Linked DNA regions of Homo sapiens. The protein of the gene in region 1 purifies or fractionates together with the protein of each later gene. This does not show direct contact. Each region holds a gene or a part of one and is shown on either strand. Other genes may lie near its edges.

The links.
Region 2: the proteins of CDKN2AIPNL (region 1) and TAF12 purify together in Homo sapiens (affinity purification with mass spectrometry; one large-scale study listed by BioGRID and IntAct). This does not show direct contact.
Region 3: the proteins of CDKN2AIPNL (region 1) and SPTB purify together in Homo sapiens (affinity purification with mass spectrometry; one large-scale study listed by BioGRID and IntAct). This does not show direct contact.

Annotation. Positions count from the first base shown.
Region 1 is NC_000005.10:134,405,378-134,409,028, reverse strand, and holds part of CDKN2AIPNL (CDKN2AIP N-terminal-like protein), read left to right. Parts: intron 1-3,651.
Region 2 is NC_000001.11:28,611,968-28,615,618, forward strand, and holds part of TAF12 (transcription initiation factor TFIID subunit 12), read right to left. Parts: intron 1,395-3,651; coding exon 1,280-1,394; intron 1-1,279. UniProt on the Homo sapiens protein: The TFIID basal transcription factor complex plays a major role in the initiation of RNA polymerase II (Pol II)-dependent transcription.
Region 3 is NC_000014.9:64,771,861-64,775,511, forward strand, and holds part of SPTB (spectrin beta chain, erythrocytic), read right to left. Parts: exon of another isoform or gene 3,559-3,651; intron 3,544-3,558; coding exon 3,265-3,543; intron 2,668-3,264; coding exon 2,537-2,667; intron 1,565-2,536; coding exon 1,360-1,564; intron 1,095-1,359; coding exon 720-1,094; intron 1-719.

The DNA.
Region 1 (3,651 bases):
CATAGGTAAGCCCATTCCTCCACATTTAGGTCTTGTCTTGGGAGGTGGGGCACATATAGAGGTCCTCTTCCATATGGGTGTCAAGGAACTAATCAGATTCTCAGTTGCTCATAAAGTATTTCAGTCCCAAATAGTACACCCCACTTGATTTTCAGGATGGTTTGTTTTTCTTAAAAAAGTATTCTTTTAGTTTTAATCTGAACCTGGGGAAAAGCTTCAGGTTGGTTTTCGAGATGCTATTATGTTTTAAAATCAGCTGTTACCTCAACACAGTACTCCTGACAAAAAATCAGTAAGTAAAATCAGCTGTTTTTTTGTTTTTGTTTGTTTGTTTGTTTGTTTTTGAGAGGGAGTCTCCCTGTGTCGCCCAGGCTGGAGTGAGGTGGTGCGATCTGGGCTCACTGCAAGCTCTGCCTCCCAGGTTCACACCATTCTCCTGCCTCAGCCTCCTGAGTAGCTGGGACTACAGGCGCCTGCCACCACGCCCAGCCAATTTTTTTTTTTTTTTTTTTTTTGTATTTTTAGTAGAGACGGGGTTTCACCGTGTTAGCCAGGATGGTCTCGATCTCCTGACCTCGTGATCCGCCCGCCTCGGCCTCCCAAAGTGCTGGGATTACAGGTGTGAGCCACCGCACCAGGACTAAAATCAGCTGTTAAAAAGGGGCTACTGTTTTTAGCCAGGGAGCAGTGTGAATTGGGAGTGTGTGGCTTTTTGGATCTTCTCATGTAATACTTAAAAAAATACTGGGCAGTCCTTGGGTGTTCTATAGTAAGGTTCTTGGGGCCCAGCCAGGGAGGAGCTAGATAGTTTCTGGCTACTGGAGTATACCTTATGGGGCAGGGGCAGGGGCAGAGGTAGGCAGGGAATGAGGTGAGCCTTTATTTTTAATTTATTTTTTAGATAGAGGCTCACTTTGTCACCCAGGCTGGAGTGCAGTGGCACGATCTCAGCTCACTGCAACCTCTGCCTCCCAGGCTCAAGTGATTCTAGCGCCACAGCCTCCCCAGTAGCTGGGATTACAGCCGGGTGCCACCATACCCAGCTAATTTTTGTATTTTTAGTAGAGAAAGGGTTTTGCCATGTTGTCCAGGCTGGTCTTGAACTCCTGGCCTCAAGTGATCTGCCCAGCTTCCCAAAGTGCTAGGATTACAGGCGTGAGCCACTGCACCTGGCCGAGCCTTTATTTTTTAACTGCTTGTGATAGATTCTTTCCTTTTTGTTTCTAAGAGGTTTTCTGATTTTCCTTTTTTTTTTTTTTTGAGATGGAGTTTTGCTCTTGTTGCCCAGGCTGGAGTGCAATGGTTCAGCTCACTGCAACCTCTGCCTCGCGAGTTTAAGCGATCCCTTGCCTCAGCGTCCCAAGAAGCTGGGATTACAGGCGCCTGCCACCACGCGCGGCTATTTTTTGTATTTTTTAGTAGAGATGAGGTTTCACCATGTTGGCCAAGTTGTTCTCGAACTCCTGACCTCAGGTGATCCACCCACCTCAGCTTCCCAAAGTGCTGGGATTACATGCGTTAGCCACTGTGCCCAGCAAGGTTTTCTGATTTTTTATATCAGTTCTCCATTATACTTCTCTGTCTTATATGTTTTCTGAAAGGTATCTGAACTCTTTCCAGTCATGTTGGGTATTAGAGATCAGAACACCTAATGACATTGGGCTGCAGACCCCAGTAGGAGACTAAGGAGGTTTGGCACGTCCCAAACATTATCTATAGACCAGTGTGAAGTGTGTGTGTGTGTGTGTGTGTGTGTGTGTGTGTGTGTGTGTTAGGAAGGGTCTTTCTGAAACATCCTAAAGGGGTCTTATACCTAAAAAATGTACAGAGCCCCTGCCCTGGGATGTTCATTCTTGACACTGTCATTGCACAGTGTGAGTCTACAGAGAAGAGTCCTCAGGCATGAAATTATCTTCTTGAAACCAGTGCCGCCATCTTACTAATCATTAGCAGTTAGCTATGTGGAAGAAGCCTATATAGAGGCCATACTTCTATAGCATTTTTGAATTGTGTGTTGCAACTTCCTTCAAATAAAACTTATGTTTTTCTAAGTAGCCAGGTTTAACTTTAGTCTGTTGATGCCACTCTAAGTGAAATTCAGCTGATCCTGAAAAGTGAGATACTTAGAGGGTGCATAGAGTTTTGCCAGTTTTGTTTTCAGACAGGGGTCTCTCTCTGTGGCTCAGGCTGGAGTGCAGTGGCTTGCTCACGGCTACCCGCAGCCTTGACCTGCCAGGCTCAAGTGATCCTTGCACCTTAGCCTCCCCAGTAGCTGGGACTACAGGTGTGTACCACCATGCTTGGCTAATTTTTGTAGAGACTGGGTTTTGCTATGTTCCCCAGGCTGGTCTCAAATGATCCACCTGCCTCAGCCTCCCAAAGTGCTGGTGTGAGTCACTGTGCCTGGTGAATCTTTAAGACTCTTCCAGATAAGCCCATTCTGAGAACGAGTCATCTGATCTATGTACCATGACAAATTTGTGTGGTATTGAAGGCTGTCCCCTCTCCATTGAATGCCACTGGAAAGAGAGCCATGAGGACTTTGCAGCAGTTTCATCCTTTGCCTGCAGTTTTTGCACACATGACAGAGGATGCTGAAAAACATTAGGCAACATTGCCAGCCCATAGACAAAATACTCCTGATGTCCAGCCATACACCTGAAAACGTCTGTTGTTGTTCTGCCCAGAATTGATGCTTTAGCTAAAAAATTAGAGTTTAGTTGGGTTTTAAAGCTAGCTACCAAGTGGAAGTAAATTGCCTGGCATTGTTGGTATCTCAAGACAGACAGTGATGATGATTTGGAGACATAAGCTCTTTAAGATTTTAAAAATACTTTATGGCTATTCTGCAGCTTTGAGGCAAGTAGATCTCTGCAATCTGTCCAGCTCTTTTTTTAAGTCTGAGAAAAGAAATGAGCATTGGTTTCTGACAGGTGGAATTTGTTGGACAGTTGCAGTATATGATTTTTTTTCTTTTGAAAGGGGATTCAAACACACATACATTGAGTAAACAATCTTGATTATCTAACTGCCATCCTAGGCTACTGCTGGCAGCCTTTGTGGTTGCTCACCTTACCAATTAATGAGCGATAATTAACAAAGAGCAGCAGCTGACTCAGGAAAGATGTCATTGCTATGACTGTCAGAATTAATATTTCCAAGGTAATGTTTTAAGGAGAAAGGAGTGATTGACTAGGAAGCTATCATTATTGACTCAAAGAAAGAAGCTGTCAACCTAATTTACGTGGTCCATTTTTTTCTGAGAACATTTTTATCCCAAGAGGGAAAATGGCAGTATGAAAAGTGACTATGAAGGCTGGGCGTGGTGGCTCATGCCTGTAATCCTAACACTTTGGGAGGCCGAGGCAGGCAGGTCACGAGGTCAGGAGTTTGAGACCAGTCTGACCAACATGGTGAAACCCCGTCTCTGCTAAAAATACAAAAATTAGCTGGGCATGGTGGCACGTGCCTGTAATCCCAGCTACTCAAGAGGCTGAGGCAGGAGAATCACTTGAACCCGGGAGGTGGAGGTTGCAGTGAGCCGAGATCGTGTCATTGCACTCCAGCCTGGGCGACAGAGTGAGACTCTGTCTCAAAAAATAATAATTAAAAAAAAGAAAAATGGGCTGGGCGCGGTGGCTCACGCCTGTA
Region 2 (3,651 bases), on another chromosome or scaffold:
AATGGATAACCAAAATATCTGTTCTTTTCTCTAGATACCAGCAACATTACCTGAAGTGTGTTATTTACTTTACCTAGACTACCAATGCCTCCCCAAGGCAACAGCTTCTTGACACTGTGAAGAAAGTCTTTCAATAATTAGTCATGGGCTGATCTGCACCGAATCTCATTCATTTGGCCTGTCTCTATAGTTATAGACTGGGCTGGGCATGGTGGCTCATGACTGTAATCCCAGCACTTTGGGAGGCCAAGGCAGGTGGATCAACAGAGGCCAGGAGTACAAGACCAGGCTGACCAACATGATGAAACCCTATCTCTACTGAAAATACAAAAATTAGCCAGGTGTGGTGGTGCAGGCCTGTAGTCCCAGCTACTTAGGAGGCTGAGGCAGGAGAATCGCTTGAACCCAGGAGGTAGAGGTTGCTGAGATGGCATCACTGCACTCTAACCTGGGTGACAGTGAGACTCGATCAAAAAAATATATATATATATATTTATATATATAAAGTATTATACATAAAGTATATACAAATATATATAAAAATTATATATAAATATATATAAATTATATATAAATATATATACACACATAAATATATACATATATATACATATATATAACACATAGTTATAGACTGATCTCTTTCTTTTAATCACATCGTATCCAATGCAGAGGGCTGCTTATTCATTTCCAAGTGATTATGGTCATCACTGTTAGCTGAGTATCTCCCAGAAAAACTCAAACTCAAATTTAGTGTCTGTTAAGTAGAAAAGGAGACTATAAAATTGTATGTATATTACGATTATAAACTTTGGAAAAAATGCATAAATAGGCTAAAACTCTAAGGGAACACTGAGGAACAGTTTTATTTGCATGGTGAAGACATAACAGTACCTACATTGACTAGATCCTACTTTGTGCAGGCCCTGTGCCAGTCACTTTACAGACATGGTCTATAATTCTCACGATTATTCTGTAAGGAGGATATTATGATCCTCACTTTACAAATGAGGAAACAGACTCTAAGAGATACTAGGTAGGAAAAATAGGCTGATACAACTAGAAAGTGGCAGAATCTGGTTTCAAACCCATGCCTGGGCTCATTCTCCCTACCACAGATGGATTTCTCTTTTCTATTTGGTGCTGTTATTGAATTAATACATAAATCCCAGTGCCCAAAAGTCTGGTTCTGGCATGAAGGTTCCTCTGACTACACTTTCCCTGGCAGTCCTGAAGAAGCAGTTGAATCCATACTTCAGGGAGAAACAAGACCACATACCTAAATGCAGCTGGACATCTTTCACCTCCAGGGTGCTAGACTTGCGATGCCGCGCAAGCTGACAGGCTGCTGTCACCACACTCTCGATAAAATCATCAGCAATCTGCAGCAGCATCTGGGGAAGGTAAAGTGGGAAGAGTCAGCACGACATTGGCAGGGTAGGCTCCTGTTGCTGGGACAACTGCTTTCAGCTTGGATTGCATATTTAGTCAGGCATTCTAGTAGAAGGCTGGAATCAGCATTTGGGCTAAGGTGGGGAAGAGGAATGAGAAGGACAAAAGAAATGTTACCCAGGTTGAGTGCAACTCACACCTTTCTGAGCATATACTTTCTACCCAGCAGTGATCAACTATCCCAATCCCTACCCTCCATATCTTTATTTATTAGTGGGAAAATAAAAGTGAATCATTTCAATTCCTCACTCACAGTATCTTAAAAGCACTTTTGTTTCCATTATCTCACTTAGTCCTTACAATAATCCTGTGAAGAAAATGGGACATGGATTTTATTCATTCCATAGAGGATTTCACAGACTCAGAGAGACTAATTTGTTCATGGCCATGTAAGTAGAAAGCAGAAGGCCAGGTACAATGGCTCATGCCTGTAATCTCAGCACTTTGGGAAGCCGAGTTGGGAGGATCACTTGAGGTCAGAAGTTCGAGACCAGCCCAACAATATTGCAAGAGCCCCATCTGTATTTAAAAATAAATAGGCCGGGCGTGGTGGCTCACGCCTGTAACCCCAGCACTTTGGGAGGCTGAGGCAGGTGAATCACGAGGTCAAGAGATTGAGACCATCCTGGCCAACATGGTGAAACCCTGTCTCTACTAAAAATACAAAAATTAGCTGGGCGTGGTGGCACGTGCCTGTAGTCCCAGCTACTTGGGAGGCTGGGGCAGGAGAATTACCTGAACCTGGGAGGCGGAGGTTGCAGTGAGCTAAGATCGTGACACTGTACTCCAGCCTGGCGACAGAGCGAGACTCTGTCTCAAAACAAAAAACCAATAATTAAAAAAATAATAACAAATAAATAGAGGCCAGGCATGGTGGCTCACACCTATAATCCCAGAACTTTGGGAGGCTGAGGTGGGCAGATCATTTGAGGTCAGGAGTTTGAGACCAGCCTGACCAACATGGTGAAACCCAGTCTCTAAGGGCCAGGCACAGTGGCTCATGCCTATAATCCCAGCACTTTGGAAGGCCAAGGCAGGTGGATCAACTGAAGTCAGGAATTTGAGACCAGCCTGACCAACATGGTAAAACCCTGCCTCTACTAAAAATACAAAATTAGCTGGGCATGGTGGCAGGCATCTGTAATCCCAGCTACTCTGGAGGTTGAGGCAGGAGAATCGCTGAAGCCGGGGCAGCAGAGGTTGCAGTGAGCCGAGACTGAACCACTGCACTCCAGCCTGGGTGACAGGGCGAGACAAAAAAAAAAAAAAGCAAGCAAGCAGAGGAACCAGGATGCCACCTCAAGCGTTCTGAGTCTAAATCTTGAGTTCTTTCCACATCACTATCAATTATTATTGGACTGTGTGAAGAGAAGGATGAGAATTCTGAAGATAAAAATCTACGAGGCCAGGAGCAGTGGCTCACTCCTATAATCCCACCACTTCGGGAGGCCGAGGCAGATGGTTTGATTGAGCTCTGGAGTTCGAGACTAGCCTGGGCAACATGGATGGCAAAACCCTGTCTCTACAAAACATACAGAAATTAGCTGGGCTTGGTGGCATGCACTTGTAGTCCCAGTTACTTGGGAGGCTGAAGTGGGACGCCTGCTTGAGTCCAGTTAGTCGAGACTACAGTGAGCTGTGATCATGGCACGGCACTCCAGCCTAGGTGACAGACACCTTGTCTCAAAAATAAATAAATAAATAAATATATATATATGCACGCACATGAAAAAACTGAGATTTTTATCAGTCAATATAGTCCCCATGGCAGCTTCTGCTGACAAACAAAAACAAACTAAAATTACAACCATAGATACAAAATTCCTTGTTCTGGTGGACCATTAACTCATTGTCATCTTTACTGTGGGAACCAAATGGACACCATCTTAGAGAAAGATTTCAGATTAAACAGCAGATCAACTCTAAAAATAACCTCCTGTCCCTCCCTAATCCCATTAAAATAAGTTAAAAAAATATTGCCAGGTGCAGTGGCTCATGCCTGTAATCCCAGCACTTTGGGAGGCCGAAGTGGGTGGATGACCTGAGGTCAGGAGTTCGAGACTAGCTTGACCAATATGGTGAAACCCCGTCTCTACTAAAATTACAAAAATTAGCCAGGTGTGGTGGCGTGTGCCTGTAGTCCCAGCTTCTCAGGAGGCTGATGCAGGAGAATCACTTGAACCCGGGAGGTGGAGGTTG
Region 3 (3,651 bases), on another chromosome or scaffold:
CTGCAGGGCTGGCCTGGGATTGCGCAGCCAGCCTACCTCTCCCTGCTGCACTGGAAGCTGGGGGAGCCCTCAGCAACAGGGGCCCCCTTGCATTTGCCCTTTCTATCACACCAAGCTCTGGGGCACCCTACGGATCTGCGGAGGGCACTCCAGTGATGGGGCAGGGGTCTGAACAGTAGAACTTGGGGGCTCTCCAGCTCCCATGTGGAAAGGCTGAAGTGCCCGGTGGCTAAGTATGTGGGGTCTATAGCTAGACTGCCAGGGTCTGAGCCCTGGCTCCACTTCGTACCTACATGTTCCTGGGAAACTTATGGGTCTTCTACCTCTCCCTTTTCTCATCTACAAAGTGCAGGGAATATTAGTAGCTGCCTCAGAGGACTGCCATGAGGGTCCAGCGGCTACATACATTGCTCAGAAGAGCACCTGGTGCTAGAAAAGTGCTGTGCGTGTGTCCACTAATAGTACTGCACAACTGGAGAAACTGCAACCGTATAGTATTGTATGCATTGGCCTTTTGTGAGGATTCAGTTTAAAGAATGACTTCTGAAGCTAAGGAACATCTGAAAGCCACTGCTCCCAGCCCTGAGCTCCTGGCTGTCTAAGGAGGCAAAACCTCCTGGCACTTATCCTAGAGGTTTTCCTGCTGACAGCCAGGTGGGGACTGACACCCAGGGCTCCTGGAAATTGGTAGCAGGTGGGCGGCAGGGGGCTGAAGGTACCTGGACACCCAGCAGGTGGAGCTCCCGCTCGAAGGCTGTGTGCACCCGGTGGAAGGACTCGGCCGTGCTGGCGTCCAGCCCCACGTCCTCGGGCAGCTCGCGGTGCTTCTCGTCGATGAGGCCCAGGATCTCGGCACCCGTGTAGAAGTAGCGGTGCAGGTCATAGGAGGCGGCCAGCAGCTGCATGCGCGTGTCAATGAGCTCCAGGAGGTCTGCCCACATCTCGTTCAGCCCGTCCTTCCACTCGGCGATGGTGGCCGCCTCGCTGTGGCCCGCGTCGATGAGTCGCTCGATGAAGGCATTCACATTGTCCACCCGCTCCTGCCCAATCGCCCCGGTCTCCCGGGCAAAGTCCCGGAACTTGTCCCGCAGAAGCTAGGCATGGGGCAGACAGAAATGTGGTTATGGGGGGCACAGGGGTTACAGGTGTCACCAGCTTAGCCAAAGACTTTCCCAGGCAGCAACTGCAGCTCCGGGAGCTGCGCTGTCACACCTTCCCCAGGGCAGGCCTGCATCGGCTGGTCCCGCCTCACACTGGGGAGGTTACGTCCTATGCAGCACTCTGTGTGTCTTGAGTGACGGCTGGCTGCGTCTACCGCATTAGAGAAAGACAAAAACAGCAGGAGTTGTGGCTACTCACAGTCACGTGGTCAAAGTCTTGCCCCATTTCCGGGGAAGAGGCCACTAGCTCCTTTTCTGAAATCCACTGCTCCAGGTCGTCGGTCTCCCGCTTGAGCTGGAACAGGTGGTACATGTTCTCCAGCTTGCGCTTGCGCTCTTCCGCCACGTCCTTCAGCCCTGCGTAGTGCTTGTCCACTTGCCCCTGAAGTCTGATGATCTGTTCCCTGGAATTCAAAACCAAAAAGGCCCTCAGAGACGGCAGCCACGAACCCAGAGCCGTGGCTCCAGGGAGCCAACATATGCCAACCACAGCCCCCTGGCAGGGATAGGTAGGGAGTGAAGCTCTGGAGAAATGACAGGGGCTTTGCCGGGGAAGAGCTGGGGAGAGAAGGGGCCACACCCTAGCCTCAGGGGATGACACACTGTGTCCTGGAATTCTGTCCTGGAGGGGTGCTTCCCATGGTGCCCCTCACTCTGGCAAGCTTACAGGGACAAGTGCAAATGGGGAACGCCTCCATTGTTCTTCCAGAGAGGCTGGGGGAGCAGCACTACCTGAGTGGGGCTCCCGCAGCAACAGCTCTGCTCAGCCCTCCAGGGAGGGAAAAGACATACTAGGGGCCCAGACAATGTGGCTCCCAGGGAAACCTCTGGGGTGGCTGCTGAGGACCCACAGTGGTGGGCACCCTAATGGCAGCTGAGGACAGGGCCATGGCTGGGGGCAGTGTGTGGTCTGTGGCCCAGTGGGCTTCCATTTATGCAGGATCCACAAAACCTCGCAGCCCATGTGGGCACAGGTTTCCACCTGCACTCCTACATCATGGTTCTGTCTGGACTGTGAAGTCCTGGAGACCTTCTGGACCATAAAAATAAAAGCTAAAGTAGTCTTCAGTGTCCCTTAGCATATTGTAACCCTTCGGAAAATTGGTGCTCTCAGGTCACCAAGAGGGTAGTTTTGCTAACCCCTTCTCTGATCATTTCGAAAACCAGGGCCTCGATGGCCCAGCTGGAAGTGATTCACACAAAACCAAGGCATAAAATGAAATTGGATCCATCACCAGTCCCGCAGCAATTTTCTCCAGCCCTATTTGATGGGAAAACTCTTTCCATTTTCCTTTTAAATCTGAAGGGACGTTGGCTGGTGGGCCCCTGGCTCAATCCCCATCTCCTGACCGAGTCACCACAGGGGGCGCACGCACCCCTCAGGGTGGCCTGCAGACAGCAGGCCCTGGGCCCGGCTGGCCAGCTGCTTGATGTTCCGGCCGTAGTCCTCCACCGCACGCTGCTGCCGCAAATGTCGCTTCAGCATCACAATGGCGCCCTCTTCATCCTAGGAGGCAGCAGACGGTCAGCGCCAGAGCTCAGTCTGGCCATGATCCCTCCCTTGGCAAGTTGTGCCCCCACTCCTGGAGGTGCCCGAGGGAGGAGGGGAGTAGGCTTGTGGGACACCCGCAGGAGAGCCACACATGCTTCCTTCCTGCCCTTCTGATTTCCCAGCAATGCCCGTGCCCTACCTTCCTCTCTGGACTCCCCTGATTCGTATCCGACATATACCCTTCCTTTTGTGCTCTAACCCCTGTCCCCATGAAAACATCCTATATCATTCCAGCTTTGAGAGACCCCCACCTGTCACCTCTCACCCCATCTCTTTCATAGCGTACAGAATCCAGGGTAAAGAAAAGTAGAGAACCCTTGGGTTAGAGCAAACCTAAGTGGGTAAACAGGAGGCACCTGGCTTCAGTGTGTGCCCTGCAGGGGTGTGTTCAAGGAGGCACCAAGGGAGGGCAGGGAGTCTGTGGGTTCCTTGTGCCCCTCCCCTGGCCTCACTCCTCACACAGTTGGACTCACAAGGCTCCCTACCGACAGCCAACCTCAACTCTTCCTCTCTGCCTGGGCACCCTGGCTGGTATCCCCTGCCCGAACAGACCTTGGGGATCTCATCGGAGATGACGTAGAGCTCCTGCTCGCCAATCCAGGCCTCAGCCTCGTCTGCATCCAGGTAGTACTGCTGTGCCTCGTTGGCGTCCCTCAGTCGCTGCAGCCTCCCGGCCGCTGCCTCCCGCAGCCTGTCCCAGGAGCTCTGCAGGTGCCCCAGGCGCTCCTCAAGGTCCTGGCAGTCGATCTCCGCCGCCTCCACCAGCTGCTGCCCTCTCTGCAGCACATCCTCAACCCGCGGCGTATGGCCCAGAATCTCATTCTGCAGTGTCTGCGGCCAGAAGGAAGGGCTCGGGGCAGGGCCTTCCCACCATGCGGGGGAGGCTGCTTCAGCAGTGGCAGCACAGCTCTGACACCCTTGGTCCCTCTCACCCCCGTT